Regions from separate parts of the Homo sapiens genome. Here regions 1, 2 and 3 are each linked to region 4. Evidence: fine-mapped expression QTL. A gene starts in region 4. Each other region holds a variant in brackets. All regions are shown on one strand. Distances are from middle to middle. Region 1 has its middle 26 kb from the start of EIF1B. Region 2 has its middle 13 kb from the start of EIF1B. Region 3 overlaps ENTPD3 (ectonucleoside triphosphate diphosphohydrolase 3). Region 4 holds the start of RPL14 (ribosomal protein L14).

The links.
Region 1: its variant is fine-mapped to the expression of RPL14 in monocytes (Quach 2016, PIP 0.93).
Region 2: its variant is fine-mapped to the expression of RPL14 in whole blood (INTERVAL, PIP above 0.99).
Region 3: its variant is fine-mapped to the expression of RPL14 in aorta (GTEx, PIP 0.97).

The regions. Positions count from the first base shown.
Region 1 is chr3:40,332,188-40,338,510 of GRCh38, forward strand. No RefSeq gene overlaps it. Among named protein-coding and RNA genes, the nearest start is that of EIF1B, 26 kb to the left of the region's middle. RefSeq lists an enhancer at 5,476-5,525. The variant T/TAA (reference allele first, on the strand shown) is at 3,098.
Region 2 is chr3:40,319,998-40,326,320 of GRCh38, forward strand. It overlaps the pseudogene PGAM1P3. Among named protein-coding and RNA genes, the nearest start is that of EIF1B, 13 kb to the left of the region's middle. The variant CAA/C (reference allele first, on the strand shown) is at 2,608.
Region 3 is chr3:40,405,023-40,411,345 of GRCh38, forward strand. All of the region lies in intron 4 of ENTPD3 (ectonucleoside triphosphate diphosphohydrolase 3), which reads left to right. All of the region lies in intron 2 of ENTPD3-AS1 (ENTPD3, EIF1B and MYRIP antisense RNA 1), which reads right to left. Among named protein-coding and RNA genes, the nearest start is that of ENTPD3, 21 kb to the left of the region's middle. The variant C/T (reference allele first, on the strand shown) is at 2,838.
Region 4 is chr3:40,453,615-40,459,937 of GRCh38, forward strand. RPL14 (ribosomal protein L14) reads left to right here and starts at 3,725. Exons shown (of 6, transcript NM_001034996.3): 1 at 3,725-3,860; 2 at 4,276-4,377; 3 at 5,028-5,122. The coding sequence starts at 3,858. RefSeq lists an enhancer at 3,524-3,818 and silencers at 3,961-4,010, 5,224-5,518.

The sequences.
Region 1 (6,323 bases), 120 kb before region 4:
TCCCTACCTCATGTCTGCACCTTTGCCTGCAGAACTCCATGGAGTGCGTGCTTCTTAGCCCAAGGCCCCAGGGAAGTTTCTCCCAAGCCCAGTTTCTGGATGAATACACATGAAATGGTGAGGTGGCTGAGTCCACTCTGGAAGACCGGGCCTCCTTGCGTGGTTGAGAGGAGAACATCAGAGACAGGGACCATGCTCAAATGCACCAGCTTTTAATAACTGGGTTTGGTACCATGGCTTGTCACCCCACTCCACCCCAACCACCAGAATAAAAACGTATTATTAGACTCTAGCAGAGGCCGACTCACCCTGAAACAAACACACTGGGACTTTCTGGTGCCTCGCCTGTCCAGGCCTCCTCCTTGCCCCTGAGCCTAGTATTGCATTCATTCATATGCTTTTATTCCTTTCTTAAAGGGGGTCTCTAAAACTGCATAAGTCTCAGGTCCCAGCAGACTGGGATGTTCTTGCTTTCAGAAATTTGAGATGGGAAATAAGAAAATAATCCAGCCGTTGGTGGTAGGAGCTGCAGCTGTCTGAAAGGAGGGATCATGAGGGACCCTGAGGAGAGCAGAGCAATGAGCACGCCAGAGATTTGTTTCAGCTGGCCTTGTGAGAGCACTAGGCCTGGAGAGTGAAAAGGAAGATGCAAGTGCCGGCAGAGCTGCGGTGTTGCGGGGAGGAGTGAATGAGTGAGTGTGATGATGCATGACTGCCTGAGCTTGCACTCTGCACAGTGAGTGCTTGCTGAACTTCGTCGGTATAGTTATTGTTAGCACTGCTGATATTACTGTGAAGGTCCGCGCACTCCATTTCCTGGGGTCCTTGGAGCCTGGTTCTGCTCTGGATAAAATGGTCAGGGAAGTCTAACACGCAGCTCTGAGTACACCCCCTGAAGGGGACAGAAGCTGAGAAATTGACCCTCCTCCACTTCACACGTACACCAGAATAGGGAGACCACGGGACAAAGCGCTCATTGACACCCATGAAAGTTAGGTCTGTCCCCAAGAACGCCTTTCCACCTGGTCTTTCCCAGATGGCTGCTTGAAGGGCTCAGGAGGAGGAGCCTGCAAGTCATGGTAACCGATTTGATGATGAACCTATGAGAAGCCACTCGCATTTGCTACCCCAGGCCACCCACATTGGTGTTCTTTGTTTCTACTACTAGTTTACAACATCTTTCTATTCTACTGCCAGGGAGGAAAAAAGGTGTTCCACAAAACTGCCCAAGAGGACATACCTAGGAGGAGCGTCTGACATCAGCGGGGATCTTTGTGCTGCCCTTTCAAACCCTCGCCTCACTAATTACCCAGCAGGAGACAGCCAGCTCCATCCATATTGGAGTTTCACCTTTAATTAAACTTTAATTCACTCATGCCTTATCCTTGTGGCCACATGCTGCTGGGAATCAGTGCCACAGCAACTTGGACCCAGGCCAGAACCTTGCAGAAGAACACCCAGAGGCATCACCAAGTAAAAATAGACTTTCCTGACTATTAAATCCAACACTGTACTCAGGGAACCAACAAGAGTGCTCTCAAGGAAAGCTGTGATCTGCCTATAGGCAAAGAATGGATGATTTCAGTAATTCCTCCCCTCCCCTCCCCGCCCCAACTACACAGGGAGACTCAAACAAACTAGGATTATACAATTACCCATTTAACTTCATCTCATTTCCGATAAGAAGTAATCAGGGGAAGCATAAGAAAACCAAGAACTTCCAACCACTCACATTTATGAAGTGCTAACTCCGTGCCAGGCATGATGGGGAAATGAGATGAAATCAGCTTTCTGTAGACATTGTCAGGGCCCTGCCTACTGTGCACCTGGCAGTCACCTACAGTTCCCACAGGCCCACAGCTTCCTACCCTACACATCTGCATGTCTCTGACAGGCCATTCTCTGGCTGTGGGCATGTGCGGCAAGTCAGCAGGACTGCCCGGAAGTGCCAGGGAGTTAATGCTCCAGGAGTGGTTCCAATGAGGGACAGGAGCTGGTGGACAAACACCCCAGCTTCCTCAACTATTGGTTCCACTTCTTCTCTCAGAATGTCTCTCAGAAGGTCCCCCAGGAGGGAGCCCCAGGTGACTGCCCTAGCCTCCAGCTCATTAATTCACCTTGTATTGGCTTTCATTCTTCTCTGACTCACTTCCCTTCTCTCTCACCAAGCTTTTAGGAATCACTTTTCAGATAAACTACTTGCACCCAATCCTAGTCTCAGTGTCAGCTTTTGGAGGAACACTAACGAAGACACAATTTTAGTCTTAACCTTGATGATAATGACACAAGTTAACTTTAATAAACGTGAAGGCCTAAAACTCAAATATCCATAAGCCAAAAGCCAATGTGATCAAATATCTAAGGCCAAACCCAAGTGGGGCCTAAGGGGCCCTGGAGAGCAGGTATCCTCTTTGGGAGGTAGCTACTAGTCTACTCAAGAGGCTGTTTCCATGCAAGAAGGTGGGGCCAGTATTGTTAGAGCTTCCAATTTTTAAAGAGATGCTGGAATTCTGCATTTTTATATGGACTTTCCCAATTTTTGAATGTTGAAATCAACTCAAAAATTTGAAAGCACTATGAAGCCCAAGAGAAATCCATCCATGGACAAGAGCATGCCCACAGACCCCAGTTTGTGACCTCTGGTTCCACTGGATTTAATAATCCAGCAGCCACTGTTGACCCTTCCCAGGGCAGTTTAAATTGAGTAGTGAGGCCAGAAAGCATATTGTGGAGAGCTGAGAAAAGAATTGGAAGTGAGAAAATAGAGAAAGCCAGTATAGATGATTCTTTCCAGAGCAGAGATAGAGTAGTAGATATTGAAGTGAAATAAATATTTTAATTCTTAAAGTTTGGGCACTCAAAAATACCTTTAAACCAGGAGGCAAGATCAAGGATTAAAGAACAGGATGAAGACAGTGGAGAGACAGGGAGTAACCAATTGAGTAAAGTCCCTCAGCGAAGGCAAGAACAGGCGGGCTAGCTGTGGGATTGGCCTTCAACATGAGGAAAGCCTACCATTCTCTGAAATGTGGGGCAGAAGATACATGACACACTAAGGTAAAGAATCTCTAAAGTATCCTAAGGCAGAGCAGCTCAT[T/TAA]AAAAAAAAAAAAAAAAATTTTCGGGCATGGTAGCTCACTCCCGTAATCCCAGCACTTTGGGAGGCCAAGGCAGGTGAATCATTTGAGGTCAGGAGTTCAAGACCAGCTTGGCCAACATGGTGAGACCCCATCTCTACTAAAAATATAAAAATTATCTAGGCATGATGGCACATGCCTGTAATCCCAGCTACTTGGGAGGCTGAGGCAGGAGAATGGCTTGAATCCCAGAGGCGGCGGTTGCAGTGAGCCGAGATTGCACCACTGCACTCCAGCCTGGGCAACAGAGTGAAACTCTGTCTCAAAAAAAAAAATTGACTAGGTATTTTTATTTTTATTTTATTATCTAATTATAAAATTAATATGTGTTTATTTTGGAAATGTTGGAAAATATAGAAAATAATAAAGATGAAATTAAACATTTCCTGTTATTCCACATCCTAGAAAGAACTGTTGCTGGAAAAGGGATATTGATTCCAGGCCCCAAGAGAGGGTTCTTAGATCTCACACAAGAAGGAATTCAAGGCACATCGCAGAGTGCAGTGAGAAGAGATAGTTTATTGAAAGCTACTCAGTTACAGAGTAGGGCATCCTCAGAAAGCAAGAAGAAGACTGCCTTGTCTTTTTTTTGAAGTTTTACTTATATAGGGTCTAGTCTATGTAAAAGCTAAGCTAAGGTATGTCTACATGCAGGTGGGCTGACAGCATAGCAAAATTTATTACTCTGTTTAGTTAAAGAAAACTATCCTTCTATAATCCCAGCACTTTGATAGGCCAAGGCAGGAGGATCGGTTGAGCCCAGGAGTTTGAGACCAGCCTGGGCAATATAGTGAGACCCTGTCTCTAAAAAAAGAGAAAGAAAGAAAAATAAAAAATAAAACGATCCTTGACATTTTAGTGTGCAATTACATCAAAGCATAATTATCTTGAAAGCATATATGGTCATGGGTATTGGGACATCTGGACTTTCCATTGTTGTAGGAGTGTGTCCTTGCAGGTATCTTTAAACTGTTTCCTCAATGGTGAATATCTTATGACTATGTGTCATGACCCACAAGGAATGTGTCTTGTTAGTCCCAAGAGGGAGCTGATATTAAAATTATGTTACTGTGGCTCTCCTGGGCTCCTGTTTCCCTAACAGAACCACTGTTAGTATTTGTGACTATATGTTTTTCATTCAAAGTGGGCTTATACTATACATACTGCTTTGTAAACTGACTTTTTAATTTTGTAACATATAATGGACATTTTTCCACACCATTAGATATTGTTTTAAGATATGACTAGTTACAGTCACACCGTATTTTCCAAATATACCCACATCCACATATCTGCCATCCACATGCTCTTCTTACAGTGTGACATTCACGTGCTTCCATCAAGAAGTGAGGTCTCTGTTTCCTCCCTTTGAACCTGGCCAGACTTTTGTAACTGCCACAGTCAATAGAATGTGGCATAAGTGATGCTGTGTGCCTTCCAAGGCTAGTTCATAAAGACAACATGGCTCTGTTTTTTACTTTTTGTTTTTTGCCTTTGGAACCAAACCACATTTGTGAGGAAGTCAGGTCTATATGGAAAGGCCATATGTGAATGTTCCAGCTGACTGACCCACTTGGGCCTCTAGCTCATATCAGCATCTGCCAACACGTGAGCAAACAAGTCTTCCAAGATAGCAGACTTTAGGTCTTCCACTTAAAGCCCCAGGCATTACAGAGTAGAAATAGGCCTTACTCCCTGCTGCCTAAGTTCCTGATCACAAATTCCGTGAGAGATAGTAAGTGATCATTGCTAGAGAACCAAAGCAGTATTGCATTTCATGGATATATCACAATATTGCCCTTTTGGGGGGCTTTAGATTGTCTCTAATTTTCTGCTATTATAAATAACACTGAATGAACCTCCACGTAGCTGATTCTTTGTCTAATTAACATCTCTTTCCTAAGAATAAATGTATAGATGAGCAATAATTAGGTCAAAGGATATGATCATTTTAAAGGCTTTGGAAACACATTGCTCAATTGCTTTCTAGAATTGTTGAGTCAATTTACATTCTCACAATTAGTGTATGAAAGTGTGTGAAAGCATTCAGTGAGTTATTCTTAGTCACTGGCCTCTGACGACTTTACATTTCTTTTCCTCGAACTGTCATCCCCACCCCATCTTTGTTAATTTTTGAGGCTTGTGATTCTGGAGATTGGCAACAAATTAGTGGATACCATGTTGGGAGTTGTTCAGGGCAAGGAATAGATGGAAACTGCTGGTAGTGGGCCATGGGGCCAGGCAGCTTTGCTCAGAACAGGGATCCAAGGAGGGCTATCAAGGTTGATCACACCACAAACCAGAGGCTCCTCCTACCCAGACTGGATGACGCCTGGGATAGAAGCTCCAACTGCAGCACTAAGCCCAGGAAATACACCTGTCCCTGCCGTGCTCCTTAAGAGGGTTGATAATAGACGTAGGGATACCCTTTCTTGTCATTTGTTGTTTTTGTTGAGATAAAATTCACATATCATAACATGAGCCGTTTAAAGGAAACAGTTCAGCGGCATTTAATAGTCACAATATTGTACAACCACTGCATCTATCTAGTTTCAAAACATTTCATTGCCCCAAAGGGAAACCCCATACCCATTAGGCAGTTACTCCCCATACCCTTCCTTCCAGTGCCTAGCAACCAGCAATCTGTTTTCTGTCTCTATGAATTGATCTATTCTGGGTATTTCATATAAATAGAATCATGCAATATGTGACCTTTTGTGCCTGGCTTTTGAGGTTTATCCACTTTGTGCACGTATACATCCTTCCTTTCTCCTATTATTTCTGAATAATATTCCATTATATGGATATACCACAATTTGTTTGTCCATTCATCATCATTTATGAACATTTAGGTTGTTTCTAATATTTTTTAACCAAAACATGTGTATTAGAACTTTCCCACAGATAGCCATTTTTGTCACTTTTCTGGTCAAATCTTCACAATAAGTTCTTAGACTCAATTATTATTATTATTTGAGATGGCATCTTGCTCTGTCACACAGGCTAGAGTGCAGTGGCGCAATCTCGGCTCACTGCAACCTCTGCCTCCTGGGTTCAAGCACTTCTGCCTCAGCCTCCTGAGTAGCTGGGACTACAGGTGTGTGCCACCATGGCCAGCTAATTTTTATATTTTTAGTAGAGACAGGATTTCACCATGTTGGCCAGGCTGGTCTCGAACTCCTGACCTCA
Region 2 (6,323 bases), 130 kb before region 4:
TAAAGTATCATTTATTGGCTCCCTTCCCTTCCCTTCTCTGTCTCATTTTCCCATACCTCCACCTATGCTTTCTGAGATCACCTCCCAAATAAACTACCAGCACTTACATCCTTATCATAGCCTTCTGGAGGAACCCAACTTAAGATACCTTTGTACCTCCCAATCCAGTTTAGATCGGGGTATGAAATACAATAGGTGCTCAATAAATATTTGTTGAACAAATGAGTAAATCTCCCTCCCTGTGACCACCACTCACCCTTTGGGAAATTCCAGACTTATCTATTATACGTAACGTATCTGTGGGTCATTTTCCATTTTGAAGATATTTGGAGCCTGTGTATCTGAGGTGGGAAGAGAATAGATATTTGTAATAGGATTGCTTGAACATAATTATTTCTGGTAAGCCCTTTCCTTACTCTTTATTTCATGCTTCTCCCCTGGAGTAGGGGAAGAAGAAGGGAATTCAGTTCCAGGAGAAAGGAAGCTGGAAAAATGAATGCCTGGAAGGGACATATTCTACCAGGGCCTTGGAAAGACTTGGGTTCTAGGCCCCTTTGCCCTTTGCTGATATTTTCCTAGTGGCCTAGCTTGCCCAGATGCTGGCTGAGACTTAGTTATCTTCTTATCACATCATTCTACATATGCAAGAAGTATCCATGGGGAAAAGGATGGATTATTTAGTTGAAGGTGTTAGGAAATTTGGCTCAATAAAGAAAAAGCTGGGTCCCTACTCCATACCACAAACACTAATGGATTACAATGGATTAAAGACCTAATTGTGAAAGGCAAAACTATATAGGTTATCAAAGAAACCCAGAAAGATATGTTGTGACTGGGACAAAAAATAAGGTTAATTGGTCAAATAAGCTGGGTGCAGTGGCTCACACCTGTAATCCCAGTACTTTGTAAGGCAGAGGCAAGAAGATGGCTTATAGCCAGGAGTTCTAGGCCAGCCTGGGCAACAAAGCAAGACCTCGTCTCTATAAAAAAATTTAAAAATTAGCCAAGCATAGTGACACACACCTGTAGTCCCAGCTATGGGGAAGCTGAGGCAGGAGGATTACTTGAGCCCAGGGGTTTGAAACTGCAGTAAGCTATTATCACACCACTACACTCCAGCCTGGGTGACAGAGTGAGACCCTGTCTCTGAAAAAATAATATGGTAAAATATACATAACATAAAATTTATCATCTTGACTTTTTTATTGCATATCACTCCTTTGTTATACTAAACTAGAAAAAAATGTAGTACAGTTATTCTGAAAAAGAATGCTGGGACCATGTGACAGGGCAAAGCAAGTAGAACACGATTAAGAAATCAGGCACAGTGAAAGACACATTTGGACATGCTCAAGGGGCATTTCACTGCCACAAAACAAGGCAGGGGAGGGATTCTAAAATATACAGCAGAATGCACTTCTACCCTTAGAAGTCAAAAGGCGTATCCCATGTTGGTGTGAGGATTGGCTTACTTTCTGATGACCATACATGGGACTAACTATTTCAACTGCCACTAGAAACCCCAAAGTGGTTGTGTGTATGTGTATGTGTGTGTGTGTGTGTGTGTGTGTATGTATATAATATATATGTATATATATAGTGTGTATATACATACACATACACACAAATATATGCACACACATACATATATAGACAAAATTTAAGTTTCTGTGTTGAATTATGTGTTAAGTTTGTGTTGCATTTACTTTTACAAACATATATGTACACATATGTGTTGCAATTATATATAATATCTGTATTTTATATAGATAAAAATTATATATATTATATCTATATTTTATATATAGATATTATATATATAAATATGTGTGAATGCAACACATAAACTTAATTGAAGATTGATCCCAACCTTCTAAAGCCAGCTTCTGTGGTGTCAGGGAGGAAATAGTTGATTTTTTTTAACATTACTATGTAGGTTACATTTATCTTCCACTGAAATGACTAACCCCACCGCCCAAGTCAGTGACCTAACCACAGAAGGGCACAGGACTGGCTCCTGGGGTCAAATAGGCACTCTTGCTTCATTGCTTCTTGCTTCTTCATTGGTCATGCCTTAGCATGGTTCCTCCCTCTCCCCTTCTCAAGCTGGTCCCTAGTAAACATAGCCCTGGCAAAACCTAGAGTTACTACCACTGAACTCTCTTGGCTAAGAGAAGCCTTCCCTCAGTGTGGACTGAGAACCCATGCCCCAGAGACGCTATTCCAATCCAGCTGTATGAAGGGAGTGGGTGTAGGAGATACAATGGCTGAAAGGAAAATGGAAGCCACTGGTCCCCCATCTGCAGCTACAACTTAAGATGACTACGGCTGGGCACGGTGGCTCACAGCTGTAATCTCAGCACTTTGGGAGGCTGAGATGGGTGGATCACATGAGGTCAGGAGTTTGAGACCAGTCTGGCCAACATGGTGAAACTTCATCTCTACTAAAAATACAAAAATTAGCTAGGCATGGTGGCATATTCCTACTGTCCCAGCTACTCGGGAAACTGAAGCGGGAGGATCACTTGAACCTCAGAGGTGGAGGTTGCAGTCAGCTGAGATTGTGACACTGCACTCCAGCCTGGCTGACAAAGCGAGACCCCGTCT[CAA/C]AAAAAAAAAAAAAAAAATGACTATGGTCAGTGTGACATATGCAGAAGTGCAGAGGAAGGGATGGGCAGAGAGGGCATTCCTTGGGACAGTAATCTATCTGCTGGCCTTTATTTCTTGACCTTGCTCCCAATAGCCATAGCTTCCATGGCTTTATGCACAGTCTCTTCATCCCCCCCCGGGAACTACATGGGCTTGGTGGGCTTCAAGTTCTTGTCCAATCTATAGACAATGGGAATACCAGCTGGCAGGTCCAGCTGCATGAAGCCTCTTCAGAGACACCCTCCAGATGCTCAACAATGCCCCGAAAACTGTTGCCATCAGCTGCAATCAGCACCCATTTCCCCTCCTTGATCTAGGAGACTATCTCTTCTTTCTAAAAGGGCAGAGCTATGGCAGTAGTGTCCTTCAGACTTTCACAGGAGGGTAGCTGATCATTCTCACTGGTGTTGCCTTAGACGGGATGGTTGGGCTCCATCAGAGGTGATGAGACATCATAGGAGCACTTCCAGATCTTTACCAAGGCCTCCTCATGCTTGGCAGCAGCTTCTGCTTTATTAAGGCCAATTAGAACCCCATAGTGGCACTCGTTCCAAGTCCTCATTACAGGCATCCACATCTGGTCAATGGCATCCAGCACTGTGCAGATGGTCCAGATGGCTTTTTCTTCCACTGTCCAAGCCACCACGCCTCACAGAAAAGTATCAGGCTGATCAACCCAGATCCATCTAGGCCACTGCCACAAGGTCTTTTTAAACAGCTTTATTGAGATATAATTCACCTAGCAAAAAATTCAGCTATTTAAAGTGTACAGTCCAGTGTGGTTTTAGTATATTCCTAAAGTTGTACAACATCATTACAATCAGTTGTGGAATATTTTCATCACCCCCCAAAGAAACGTTGTACCCATTAGCAGTCATTCCTCATTCACGTGTTTTCTTCTAGGAATGTAGTTTTAGGTCTTACATTTAAGTCTTTGGTCCAGTCTCAATTAACTTTTGTGTATTGGTATAAGGTAGGAATCCAAATTCATGCTTGTACATGTAGATAACCAGTTATTCCAGCACCATTTGTTAAAAACACTAGTCTTTCGCCCATTGGATCATCCTGGCACCCTTATTGAAAATCAATTGGCCGTAGATGAGAGTTTATTTCTGGACTTGCAATTCTATTTCATTGATCTGTTTATGTATCTTTATGCCAAAACCACACTGTCTTAATTACTGCAACTTTGTAGTGAGTTTGAAATTGGGAATGTGAGTCCTCTAACTGTTCTTTTCCAAGATTGTTTTGGCTTGTCCATGTCTCTTCCAGTTCAGCTAGTTACAAAGTATCATTTTGCCTCTCATCTGAGGCTGTGTCCTGTACATAGGTTTTTCTCAGGAACCTTGTCGGGAGGTCTTGAATCAGGAGTGACTGAATGCCCTAGCCATCTTCCCAGCTCATGGTATCCCAATCTCATCTTTATACCAACGCTATAAACTACCTAGCCCAACTATGTCACTCAACCTGGCTCCTAAAATCCCAGCCTGAGCCAGAGTCCTTCTCCCCAAATGCCTGAGGGCAGAGCAGCTCCACGATAAAACCCAAGTAAGCTCCCCGGGTGTTTGCAGTCTCACAATGATTGGGTTTTCCTCTGCTAGGAAAAGAGAGAGAATTTAAAAATATGTAAACGTAAACAACATTTATTTTGAAAATGTTTTCTTTTTCTTGTTTTTCTTGCTATGGGTTTCTATTAAATCTAAATTAGTATAAGAATCCTAGAAGAAAGCCTAGGAAATACCACGCTGGACATGGGCCTTAGGAAAGAATTTATGACAAAGTCCTCAAAAGCAATTGCAACAACAAAAAAAATTGACAAATGAGAGGTAAAGAGCTTCTGCACAGCAGAGGAAACTGTTAGCAGAGTAAACAGACAAGACAACCTACAGAATGGAAGAAAATATTTGCAAACTATGCACCCAGCAAAGGTCTAATATCCAGAATCTATAAGAAACTTAAATAATTAAACACGCAAAAAACAACAACAACAAAGAACTGCATTAAAAAATGGGCAAAAGACATGAGAAGACACTTTTCAAAAGAAGACATACAAGTGGCCAACAAACATGACAAAATGCTCAACGTCACTAATCATAAGAGAAATGCAAATCAAAACCACAATGAGATACCATCCCACCGCAGTCACAATGGCCATTATTAAAAAGTCAAAAAACAGCAGATGTTGGTGAGGCTGTGGAGAAACGGGAACACTTATAATACTGTTGGTGGGAATGTAAATTAGTTTAACTACTGTGGAAAGCAGTTTGGAGATTTAAAACAGAACTACCATTTGACTCAGCAATCCCATTACTGTATGTTCATTCAAAAGCAAGCAAATCATTCTACCGAAAAGACACATACACTCACATGTTCACTGCAGCACTATTCACAATAGCAAAGTCATGGAATCAACCTAGGTGCCCATCAACAGTGGATTGGATAAAGAAAATGTGGCATATATACACCATGGAATACTATGGAGCCATATAAAAGAATGAAATCATGTCCTTTGCAACAACATGGATGCAGCTGGAGGCCATTATCCTAAGAAAATTAAAGCAGGAACAGAAAACCAAATACCACATGTTCTCACTTATAAGTGGGAGCTAAACATCAGGTACTCATGGCATAACGATGGCAGCAATAGACACTGGGGACTACTAGAGTAGGGAGGAAGGGAGAAGGGCAAGGGTCAAAAAACTAACTGTTGGGTACTGTGCTCAGCACCTGAGTGACAGAATTATTTGTACCCCAAACTTCAGCATCACACAGTATACCCAGGTCACAAACCTGCACTTGTACCCCCTGAATCCAAAATAAAAGTTGAATAGGAAAAAATAAAATAAAATAAAGTTCTGTAATGATACTTTAACACAAACTTTTTCTGTAAATATTAATAGTAAATATTTTAGGCTCACAGGTTGTATGATCTCTGCTGCAAATACTCAACTCTGCCATTGAAGCAAGAAACTGCCATAGAGTATATAAATGAATGAATGTGGCTGTGTTCCAATAAAACTTTATTTATAGACACTAAAATTGCAATTTTATATAATTTTCAGATGTCACAAAATACTATTCACCTTTTGATTTTTTTTCACTAACCATTTTTAAATGGGGGATAATTCCTTTCTTAACTATAGTTAACTATACTTTTTGGACCACATGAAAACAATAGGTAGGACAGAATTTAGTCTGAGATCCACAGTTTTCTGACCCTGGATTTAATGTGACACAGGAATCATGGCACTTGAAGGAACCACACACTGAACCAAGAACTTTTGATTAAGCAGCTCATTCCAATTAAAATAGTATTTGCAGCACCACAGTTGGCCTCAGGTTTTAACCTGAAGCCCCTAAAAGTAGGTTAGCCCAGTAACAGTGGATAAAAGCCTATTTAGAGAGACATTTCCAAAGCATGCCAGAGAGAGACCTGAGTTAGAGGCCACTTGGCCTTAAGGTCCTTGGATATTTTCCCCAGGTGGTCAGGGCCATGTTAGTACCTGTGTCCGAGGACCGAAATTGCCTCCATGGATTCCAGAGTTGCAACACACATCCTTGTTCAATTTAGAGAGGGAGAGAAAAAAATAAAACATCATTCAGAATTGCCTTTTTGACACAGGCAGTGTTGGTGTCATGAGGACTTTTTGCTAAAAGGCCTAGATTCTGTCCTG
Region 3 (6,323 bases), 49 kb before region 4:
GCGTCTCATCTCATCTGCAGTACTCATGCCTGCTGCTGCCTTTCCCCACAAGGGACATTCATAATGTCTTTCCTTTAAACCAGTGACTAAAAATTACTTAAGCTCCACTAGAGCCTAAACTTAACTATCTCCTCCATTAAAATCCCTCAAAGAGTTGCATCAGAAACCAGGCCACCATAGTATTAAAAAAACATCCTTTGCCTCTGGGTGCAGTGGCTCATGCCTGTAATCCCAGCACTTTGGGAGGTGAGGCGGGTGGATCACCTGAGGCAAAGAGTTTGAGACCAGCCTGGCCAACATGATGAAACTCCATCTCTACTAAGAATACAAAAATTAGCCGGGCTTGGTGGTGGGCGCCTATAATCCCAGCTTCTCGGGAGGCTGAGGCAGGAGAATTGCTTGAACCCAGAAGGCAGAAGTTGCAGTGAGTGGAAATCATGCCACTGCACTCCAGCCTGGGTGACAGAGCGAGACTTCATTTCAAAAAAAAAAAATCATTTGCCAATAGTTGGCCGGAGCTCAAGCTGAGGTGCGTGTCTTTGGCTTCTGTTTCCCCTCAAGTAAGTTTTGTGCCGTCTGTTTAACCCTCTCTCCCCATATTGAAATAGCAATTTCAGTGCTCCTCTCATGGGACCAAGTATCCAAGTCCAAGCAGCTTAGAAGCCTGTGAATCCTATCTCCTTTTCCCTCTAGAAGGCTTAATGGACCTTATGCAAACAGGCTGTCTGGTGACATACTCCCAAGGTTTCACCATTCTATCTCGCCTCTCACCAGCCGCTAACCAGAGACCAGCTCCTTGCAGATTATATTTTGTTTATCCCAGATTGGACTAGCCAATCTCCTTACTACAGAGATGTATAGTGGTTTGAAAGTCTCATTGATTGATTGATTTAATAAATATGTATTAGGTGCCTGCTGTTTGATACGAACTGTTCTTGGCACCAGGAATTCAGAAATAAACAATATATACAAAATCTGTGGTTATGTGTTATGAGACTTGCATTCCAATGAGGAAGATAGACAAAAAAATAAACGGGCATATAACGAGTGTCAGGCAGACATGATGTGAAGAGAAATCAGGCAGGGCAGGAAAAAGAGAGTGATCATGCTGTTTTGAACAGGATTGTCAGGGAAGTATGAAGAATATGACAGCTAGGCAGAGACAAAAGTGATATGAGACAATGGGCCATGTAAATGTGTGGGGGAAGAACATGCTGAGCAGAGGCATGGCAAGGGAAAAGGCCAAGCATGGAAGCTGCTCAGCATTTTCCAGGAAAAGCCAAGGGGCCAGTGTGGCTGGAAGAAAGATGAGAAATGAGACTGAAGCTAGAGCCAAGGCCTGCTCCTTGGAGGGACTTGAGGTGTCCTAAGGGTTTGACTGTGACACAAATGAAGTTTCTTCAAAGTATATTGGGAAGCCATTAGAAGATTCTAACTAGGGAACTAATACGATATGACTTCTGTTTTTAACGGATCACTCAGTTGATATAGAACACGTAGTCAGGGGCTAAGATTGGAAGCAAGGACACCAGTTAAGTGCTGTTAAATCAGTACGGGTGAGAGATTAGGTGATGGTCAATTTGCCCTTGACTAGTGCTTCTCAACACAAGGTGAATTTGTCTCCCGGGAAACATTTTGCAATGTCTGGAGATCTTTTCGATTGTCATGACTGGGTCCGTGGTGCTACTAGCATCTAGTGTATAGAAGACATTTCTCATCTTTCTTCCAGCCACACTGGCCCCTTGGCTTTTCCTAGAAAATGCTGAGCAGCTTCCACACTTGGCCTTTTCCCTTGCCATTCTACAATGTTCTAAGCATTGTACAATGCACAGAACAGCCTCCACAACAAAGAATTATCTACCCCAAAATGTCAGTAGCACCAAGGTTAAGAAACCTTGGTTTACGATGGTTCTGGGGAAGGGGGTGAGAAGTGCTTAGATTTGCGAGGTATTTTGAAGGTAGGACCAACATGATTTTATGATGGACTTGATGTGAGGCATCTGAGTTCATAATGCATGAGCAAGAGTTTGGATATGAGCAACTGTGTGCATCACAACACCATTTACTGAGATTGGGGAACACTGGGAGTGGAGCATATTGGGGGCAGGGCAAAGCTTAAAGAGTTTGGTTTTGGGCATATTAAGTTGGAGATGGCTATAAATCATCTGAGTCAGGGGAGGCAAACTTTTTCTGTAAAGAGCTACACGATAAATATTTTAGACTTGTGGGTCATATGGTCTCTGTCGTAACTGCTCAACTCTGCCCCTTTAGCATGAAAACAGCCATAGACAACAGGTAGATGAATTAGCATGTTTGCATTTCAAAAAAAAAAAACTTTACTTGTGGACACTGACATTTTAATTTCTTATAATTTTCATATGTCATGAAATGCTGTTCTTCATTTTATTTTTTTCCAACTACTTGAAAATATAAAAATTATTCTTCACTTGCAATCCATACAAAAACAGGTATGGGGTCAAATAGCTTGCTCATTCCTGATCTATACAGTGATGTGGAGTTGTCAGATAGGCAAGTCGGGAGTTCGGGGGAGGGGGAGGATGAAGAAATAAAGCTGAGTGTCATCAGAATACAGACGATATCCAGCCCCAGCTCATCTAAGGAGTGAATAGATACTGAAGAAAAGAGATCTGAGGACTTAGCCTTACACACTCCAGTACTGAGAGGTTGGGGAGAGGAAGAGGATCCAGCAAAAGAACTTAGGAGGAATGACAGCCAGTGAGGGGAGAAGAAGGTCAGAACCCAAATCCAAGGTAGTTGAAGAAAGAGGAAGTGCGCAATTAGGTGAAAAGTGATGGGGAGCTTATAATCTAAGAAGT[C/T]AGACAGACATGATATGCCCCCAGTGCGGTGATGTACACTAGGAAAAACCTAGCACACCTAGGAAGTGCTCTTGCCAAAAAATCAAATCTGAATCTGATCACATTTCTAGAAATTAACTCCCAGTTTATAAAAAACACAGAAGACAAAGGAACATGTTCAAGGACACCTCACGGATCCAATCAGCGAAATCCAAAATAAGAGACCTACTCCATTAAAATGATTTCTTTAATAAATAAATGGCAAGATAAAAGGGGGGCAGGAAAACTGTTACAGAATGAGAATCTTAAAAAACATCCAAATGCACATACAAGGTATGGACTTTGGTTTCTGCATCACACTATAAAGAAAAAGTTATTCTGGGAAATTTGAACACTGACAGGTCTTTAATAATATTAAGAACTTTTTTAGGAGTGATTTTTTTCTTAGGTATCATGGTTATATTTTTCAGAGTTCTTCCCTCTTAAAAACATATACTAAAGTGTTTGTAGATGAATTAACATAATGCCTGGGATTTTCTTTACAATAATTCCTAGAGATGGAAAAAAGAAAGCATATAAATGAAAATAAGATGGGCTGTGTATTGATTAACTGTTGAAGCTGAATGATCAGTATATGGGGATTCATTTCACTAGTTTCACAGTAAAGAATTAAGACTAATGTGAGCACTGACCTGTGATGTTCAGCATAGTTTTGTTGTTTTTGTTGGCTTTATTGGCATTTTGGAGAGAAAAACCTGTTAACTAACCTATCTCATAGGAATATGCCTGAGAGCTTAATCTCACATTTTATTTACTGAGAGAATTGTGTGTCTTTTTAAAAATAACTTTCTAATTACAAAATAATATATTTTCATTGTGTGAAAATCAGAAAACACAGGTAAATAAAATGGAACCAGGCACAATGGTGTGCACCTATATTCCCAGCTACTCAGGAGGCTAAGGCAGAAGGATCACTTGAGCCTAGGAGTTTGAGACCAGCCTGGGCAACATAGCAAGACCCCATCTTTATTTAAAAGTAGAAAAGGAAGTAAGATCATCCATAATCCTTCCCACCAGAGGGGAACATTTTTCTTTTTTTAGGATTAATATATTTTTATATTAAAAATTATTCATACAGGCTGGGTGCAGTGGCTCACTCCTGTAATCCCAGCACTTTGGGAGGCCAAGTGGATCAGCTGAAGTCAGGAGTTTGAGACCAGCCTGGCCAACATGGTGAAACCCCATCTCTACTAAAAATACAAAATTAGCCGGGTCTGTTGGTGCATACCTGTAGTCCCAGCTACTCGGGAGGCTGAGGCAGGAGAATCACTTGAACCTGGGAGGCGGAGGCTGTAGTGAGCCGAGATCATGCCATTGCACTCCAGCCTGGACAACAAGAGCAAAAACTCCGTCTAAAAAAAAAATTATATATACATACGTATATAAACATATATATTTATTTAATTGTTGTTATTGTTATTAGTGTTTCTTACAGCTACTTCAGTTCTGAACTCCTGAGATCAAGCCACTGAGTTCATCAAGCCCACGGCTTATGGTGCTGTCATTTGTCTGTTGTAGGAGGTCATTGCCCCAGGAGGGAAAATTACATTAGAGGCTCTGTCCTTGGCCAAGGTTGAGAAAGCCTGTCCTTGCTTCTCTAGCACTGTCGATGAAATCCACGTCTGTGCATCTTAATGGACACATCCAAGCAAAACTTGTAATTACAATGCTCAGGTTTTTTTATTGGTTTGTGGTAGTTGGAAGATGGGTGGGAAAGGTTAAGAAAGGGCAGCTGAAGGAGGCAGTGGCTCTATCAATTCCAAAGAAGGAAGTTTCCAGAGGGACCATATTCTCTCCATCTTCCTTGTCTGTCCTATACTTTGTCTTCCTTAAAGTAGACTTATTTAAACTCAGAGCCTGGACTGGGAGAACAAATTAAGTTATGTTCATGCAATGGCATGCAATGCAACTGTAAAAAGAAATGAAGAATATTTATATACTGCTATGGAGTGGCCACTAGGAAGTATTGTTGAATGCAAAGAAAAAAAAAGTGGAGAAAAGTATATATAGTAAATTACCATTTATCTAAAAGTTGGGGTGATTAAAAATATATATTTGCTTATTTTAAACAAACATTGGTTAAACTTTTTTTAAAAAAGAAACTACTTACAGGAAGAGGAGACAAGGAGAGAATCTAGATGTCTCTGAATATACCTAGTTTTGTAGATCTAATTTTAGAACTACTTAATTATTTTAGTAACTATAAAACAAAATCGTTTTTTAAAAAGTAATTCCTAAAACTCAAAAGTAAAATGCAACAGGCCAGTCATGGTGTCTCACACCTGTAATCCCAGCACTTTGGGAGGCTGAAGCGGGTGGATCACTTGAGGCCAGGAGTTCGAGACCAGCCTGGCCAACATGGCAAAACTCTGTCTCTACAAAAAATACAAAAATTAGCCAGGCACGGTGGCACGTGCCTGTAATCCCAGCTACTTCGGAGGCTGAGGCACAAGAATCGCTTGAATCTGGCAGACAGAGGTTGTAGTGAGCCGAGATCACACCAACTGCACTGCAGTCTGGGTGACACAGTGAGACTCCATCTCAGAAAAAAAAAAAAAAAGAGAAAAAGATATCACTATTTGCAACCCCTAATGAAATAATGGAGCTAAACCATTATCATTGATGATAACAGCACAAAAAGAGAAACAACCAGATACTGTGCCTCCTATTGTAAGTCCACACTAATCCCTATATATTTTTTTTAAATTTCAAACCTGATCTGATCAAGCCTCTACATTCAGTTAACCATTTATAGAAATACAAGGGACCAAGTAAGATGTTAATTGAACTATGAGGGTACAATCGACAAACTCTAGACTGTGGAAATTCTTCAGGACGAAGAAATTGCAAGTAAAATTTTTAATAATTAGGAGAAAAATAGAAAGGGAAGGCAGAACTAATAGACAGAAAGAGACTTAAGATTGCACTGTACCGAATTTATTGGGATCCTGACTCATACAAATGAGAAGAGGGTGATGGATGAAGGAAGAAGGAGGGATGAAGAGGAGGAGTAGGAAGAGAAAGAGACACAGAGGATGAGAATGAGAACGAATATGGAGGCAATGGGAACCATGACTGGATAGTTAATGATATTAAGAAATTATTTTTTTGGCAAGGCATGGTGGCTCATGCCTGTAATCCCAGCACTGTGGGAGGTCGAGGCAGGTGGATCACCTGAGGTCAGGAGTTCGAGACCAGCCTGGACAACATGGTGAAACCGTGTCTCTATAAAAAAACCAAAAATTAGCCAGGCGTGGTGGTGCACGCCTGTAATTCCAGCTACTCATGAAACTGAGGCAGGAGAATCACTTGAACCTGGGAGGTGGAGGTTGTAGTGAGCCGAGATCGTGCCACTGTACTCCAGGCTGGGCGACAGAACAAGACTCTGTCTCAGAAAAAAAAAAAAAGAAAAAAAGAAAAGAAAAAGAAATTATTTTTAATTTGTAC
Region 4 (6,323 bases):
AGGGGGCTCAAGCTGCATGAAATGCTGCGGGAAATAGGAATGAGAGACGCAGAATGGTCGGAGAAAAAAGCTAGGAAGGTGTTTGGGAGTAAGATTTTGGAGTGCCTTGAATGCCAGACTAGGGAGTTTGGACTATATCCTGTAAGATAGGGGATAAAAATCAACTTTAAACAGGAGTGATATAACAAGATAATGTACTTTAGAAAATAATTCTGTAACTGTAGGGGGAGTCCCAAAGTGTTTCTCAAATTGTGTTCGGGGAAGTTCAAAGTGTGTTTGAGAGCTTGTTTTTATATGCAGATTCTTGCCCCTCACCAGACCTGCAAATAAAGTTCTCTGGTTGTACAGCCAGGAAACTGCATTAAAAAAAAACTTTTTAGGTTAACATACATTTGGTGAGAAAACGCATAAACCATATGGATAGGGCTCTGAATTTTCACAAGCAAACACTTCAGCCAGGCGGGGTGGCCCGTGCCCCTAATCCCAGCTACTCGGGAGGCTTAGGCAGGAGAATGGCTTGAGGCCAGGAGTACCAGATCAGCCTGGGCAACATAGCAAGACCCGTCTCTAAAAAAATTTAAAACAAAAATAATAACACACTCCCGTAGTTAACACCAGATGAAGAAACAACATGGCCAGCAGCTCAGAAGCTCCCCTTTTCCCCTTTAGCCACTGCTGCCTGCACCAAAGGTAAATATGATCATTACTTATAAGAACTGTAGATTAGTTTTGCCTGTTTTGAATTTGATATAAATAAAAGCATACAGGATATATTGTGTCAGCTTATTTGTTAGTGTTATTTATGAAATTCATCCGCATTGTTCCATGTAGTTGCTGTAGACTCCGTTGCTATAGATTGTTATCACAATTTATCCAGTCTCTTGTTTATGGGCCTTTGGGTAATTTCCAGTTTGGAGATAGTAGCAAAAAAAATGCTAAAATGAACATTCTTCTTCATTCATATCTTTTGCTTTGTAAATTATAAAGCAAGACAACAAGACCTAAAGACTGATTCATTCACTACCTATTTATTGAGCCCCTTACCAGACTAAGGTGAGAAAATAAAACAGAAAAGACAGCAAAGGTCCTGCCCTCATGGAACTTATTCTAACTGGAACGAAACAACACCTACGTGGGCAGCAAAACAAGTCAAACAATTGCAATTGTGATAACTCTGAGGGAAACAAGGTGAGCTAGAAAAAGAAGGGTGGGGACTTAACCTTTTTTTATGTGGTAGCCTGGTTAACTCTCAGAAAAATATCTAGGAAAAAATACAAGAGATAAGTTGGCACTGCTACACGATGAGTATTAACAATGGGTAGACCATTCCTGGCAAGAGAGACACCATGTATAAAGGTCATGGAGGAGGAGAGAGCTTGGCCCATTCAAGACCAGTGTGGCTTCAACACAATGAAGGAGGGATGGCATAAGGTGTATCTGGGTATTAAAGCATATGATACAAGGCCAGAGTAAGAAGTTGAGATTTTATTCCAAATATTATGAAAAGCAATCGAACTGTTAAAAACAGGAAATAATGTGATCTGATTTACTTACTTAAAAGATCCCTCTAACTGCTGAGCAGAGAACAGATTAAAGACAGAATTTAGGAGGCTGCTAGAGCAGTCTCAGGGAAGATATGCTGGCATAGAGCTTAGAGGAAAGGCTTGAAATACATCTGGGAACTGTCATGGCAAAGATCATCACCTTAATCAAGTGATAAAAGGTAACACCTCTCTGCACTGGCCTGGGTAAAAATCTAAAGAATAAAATACCACCACAATATTGGGAACCCATGTGTGGTGGTGTATTCCTGTAGTCCCAACTATTCTGGAGGCTGAAGCAGAACTGCTTGAGCCCATGAGTTCAAGGCTGTAGCAGGCTACAATCAGACCTGTGAATAGCTACTGCACTCCAGCCTGGGCAACACAGCCAGACCCCATCTCTTCGAAAAAATGTATATGTGTGTGGCCAAGCACAGTGGCTCACGTTTGTAATCCTAGCACTTCTGGGAGGCTGAGGCAAGTGAATCACAAGGTCAGGAGTTCAAGACTAGCCTGGCCAAAATGGTGAAACCCTGTCTCTACTTAAAACACAAAAATTAGCCGGGCGTGGTGGCAGGCACCTGTAATCCCAGGTACTTGGGAGGATGAGGCAGAGAACTGCTTGAACCCGGGAGGCAGAGAACTGCTTGAACCTGGGAGGCAGAGGTGGCAGTGAGCCGAGATCGCACCACTGCACTCCAGCCTGGGTGACAGAGGGAGAGTCCATCTCAAAAAAAGAAAGAAAAAAAAAAGTGTTTGTGTGTGCGTATATATATAGAGAGAGAGAGAGTGAAGAGAGAGAGAATGTATTCTGATGTGATGCACCAAGGACATAGCATTTCTACCAAAAATTCACTATCTGAATCCAATGAGGAAAACTCCAACAAACCCATGTTACAAATTTAACAGTTAAATCTAAAACTATCAGTTAAAGACTAGAGACCTGATAAATAATTGCAATTTGTAATCCTCCATTAGATCAAGAGCCTGGAAAAACAATTTTTTTTCCCATTTGCTCCAAGGAACATAGGAGCAACAACTTATAAATTTGAATAAGGACTGAAGGTTAGATAATAGTACTATTGCAATATCAATTTCCTGATTTTGATAAGTGTACTGATGACATAAGAGAATCTCTCTGTTGTTAGGAAATACACATTTTAAGAACGTATAGATAGGCTGGGCATGGTGGCTCACGCCGGTAATCCCAACACTTTGGAAGGCCGAGACGAGAGGATCGTCTTCACTCAGAAGTTAGAGGCTGCAGGGAACCATGATCGCGCCACTGCACTCCAGCCTGAGCGACTGAGGGAGACCCTGTCTCTATAAAAGAATGTAACGCCAGGCACGGCGGCTCACGCCTGTAATCCCAGCACTTTAGGAAGCTGAGGGAGGCAGATCACGAGGTCAGGAGTTCGAGACCAGCCTGGCCAACATAGTGAAACCCTGTCTCTACTAAAAATGCAAAAAAATTAGCCGGCCATGGTGGCGCGCGCCTGTAGTCCCGGCTACTTGGGAGGCTGAGGCTGGAGAATCACTTGAACCCGGGAGGCGGAGGTTGCGGTGAGCCAAGCCCCCGCCACTGCACTCCAACCTGGGCAACAGACCGAGACTCCGTCTTTAAAAAAAAAAAAATGTAGCGATAGAAGGACATCATGTCGGCAATTTCCTTTCAAATGATATAGCACATGCAAAACGTTAACATTTGTGGAATCTAGAAGGGTTTGTGGGAATTATTTGTACTAGTTTAGCAATATTTCTGTAACTGTGAATTACTTGAAAATGAAAGGTTAACAAAGTTACTGAGATTAGGAGAGAACGTGAGGAGCGAACAGACCTAGCCATGAATAACCAACAAATAAAACTCGAGGAAATAAAAAGGAACTCAAATGGCATGCGACCAACGGAAGACATAGCTTCTGTACTCTTAACCCTAAATTACTAAGCGATGACCCTCCTGCAGCTTTCTAATCCAAATCACCAAAAACAATCTCGCCGCCCAACTTTGCCAAAAAGCAACTTAACGCCAGCCGACTCCGCCATGTTTTCCCAGTGAGCTTGCGAGCGCGTGCGTACGCACGCACGCACGCACGCACCAACCAATCGGTGCTCACGTCGGTGACTCGTTACCGCAGGGGCGGTGCGTTCTTCTACACATGCGCAGGGTTGGGCGGGTCTTCTTCCTTCTCGCCTAACGCCGCCAACATGGTGAGTCTTACTGTTGCGGGCTCCGGGGCCGTCGACCATGCCGCTCGACCTCCACCTCCGCTGGGAAGCTGAGGCGCCAAACGGCTCCCAGAGGGTCCCGGGAAGCGCATGGTGAGGGTCCCCGGGCCGGCTGTGCAGCGGAATCGGGCCCTTCCCGGACTCGCGCCCTTCCCGGACTCGCCGCTGGCGAGCGCGTGGAGGGCCCGGCAGGCCTGGCGCGCCTTGGGCCACGCGTGCGCGCCTCCGCCGCTGGAGCTGGATGGCTGATGCGGCTCGTGGTCCGAGAGCCTTGTCCTGCCGTGTGGGCCTTGCGGACCTGGGAGCTGGCGGGCGTTGGGAACCGGGCTTAAGCTACTGAGGCGTTTGCTGATTTCGTCCATCCAGGTTGGCGCCTGGCTCTCGGGCGTTTGTTCCCTGCAGCATTCTTTTTCGCTGAATTTAACCATGTTGTCTTTAGCTGCAGAAGGTGACATATGTAGCGAGTATTTCTAAGTAAGTTTCACTGTCCTTTCTCCTCCAATTTTAGGTGTTCAGGCGCTTCGTGGAGGTTGGCCGGGTGGCCTATGTCTCCTTTGGACCTCATGCCGGAAAATTGGTCGCGATTGTAGATGTTATTGATCAGAACAGGGTAAGTGTCACAACTTTTTACTAAACATGGCAGTGGACATGTGCCCTGCAGATGGCAATAATGAATTGTCTCGATGGCTGTGTAAGATGAGGATGCTATGGGTAGTCGCTTTATTTTACCATTGAGGAAACAGGTAATGGTACGGGTTTTAAGCACAGCCTGAAGTTAGCTATTAGTATTGAATTTCAGTATTAGCCACTTAAGCTAGAGCCAGTTATAGGCTGAAACGTTGGTTAGTTTTAAATGAGTTACTATACGTAAAGTGAGTTTAGAACAGATCCAGCACGTAGAAAGCACTTTTGTATTTACTGCTGTGTATTTGAAACAAGCAAACTAAGGAGTTGACCACTGACTATAAATCAGCAGGGATCAGAGTCCTAAAGTTGCCTGTAAATTACATGTGGTTGGTTTCTATGGGGTACTATATAGTTTAAGAAGGAGCATTTAATGATGTGGAGAAATGTTTGTGTTGAGCAAAAGACATACATATATATAACCCAGATAGGACAATCCTTGTCTTTTCTGAGCAATTTATTAAAATAGTAGTGTGGGTTTGATGGCCCTGAACGGATAAGTAATGTTACAGAACCATCTGACCATTTTAATTGCTGTTAGATTTTGCACTGAAGTTCTTGATGTTTGTGTTCTAGGCTTTGGTCGATGGACCTTGCACTCAAGTGAGGAGACAGGCCATGCCTTTCAAGTGCATGCAGCTCACTGATTTCATCCTCAAGTTTCCGCACAGGTAACTGTCCACTAATCACTCCTCCCTCCCATCCCCAGATTTGTTTATGCTAGTAAAAGTTTGTTTTGGAGTAAACAATACGGAAGATTCAGAGCCATCCTGAAGAGGGATTTGCATCATAGAAGTAGACAGGGATTATTTACTTTTAAAATGTCTTGCCTGCGCGTGATAGCTCATGCCTGTAATCCCAGTACTTTGGGAGGCCACGGTGGGAGGGTCTCTTGAGCCCAAGTTTCAAGACCAGCATGGGCAACATGGCGAAAACCCCCATCTCTACAAAAAATAAAAAAAAAATTCGTTGGGCATGGTGGCACGCGCCTGTAATCCCAGGTAGGGGGGCCTTGGGGGTGCTGAGTTGGGAGGATCGTTTTAGCGAGGTCGAGGCTGCAGAGAGCCGTGATCATGCCACTGCACTCCAGCCTGGATGACAGAGTGAGACCCTGTCTCAAAAATAAATAAATAAAATAAATGCCTTGAGGTCACTTTTCTATCCTGGTAGTTTAGGGCTTTGCCTTTGTTTAGATTTGCCATCTTCTTTTCTTCTGGTTTCTGCCAAATTTTTAGCTTAAAGTAAACAACAATACTAAGTCTTGTGTTTATTGCTACTAGCTATCATTAGATAAGCTCTCAGTGTGTGTCAGTTACACAGTATTTAATATAAGAGGTTTTATCCCTAGCTTACATTTAAGTGAGGCAGTGAATAGCAGTTCTTTTTTGACATGAAAATTAAAACACTTTAGTGTGTTGCTATACAGTTAATTCAACCCACAATGATGGTTGCAGTGGAACATGTAATTTTGCATGCTTTAAAAAATAGTCAAAAACTTGCTGTATGTTGGCCGGGCGCGGTGGCTCACGCCTATAATCCCAGCACTTTGGAAGGCCGAGGCGGGTGGATCACGAGGTCAGGAGATGGAGACCGTCCTGGCTAACACGGTGAAACCCCGTCTCTACTAAAAATACAAAAAAAAAATATTCCGGGCATGGTGGCGGACACCTGTAGTCCCAGCTACTTCAGAGGCTGAGGCAGGAGAATGGCGTGAGCCCGGGAGGCGGAGCTTGCAGTGAGCCGAGATCGCAACACTGCACTCCAGCCTGGGTGACAGAGCGAGACTCCGTTTCAAAAAAAAAAAAAAAAAAAAAACTTACTGTATGCTGAGCACTACAGGCACTGTGGGACGTGTATTAACACATAATGGAT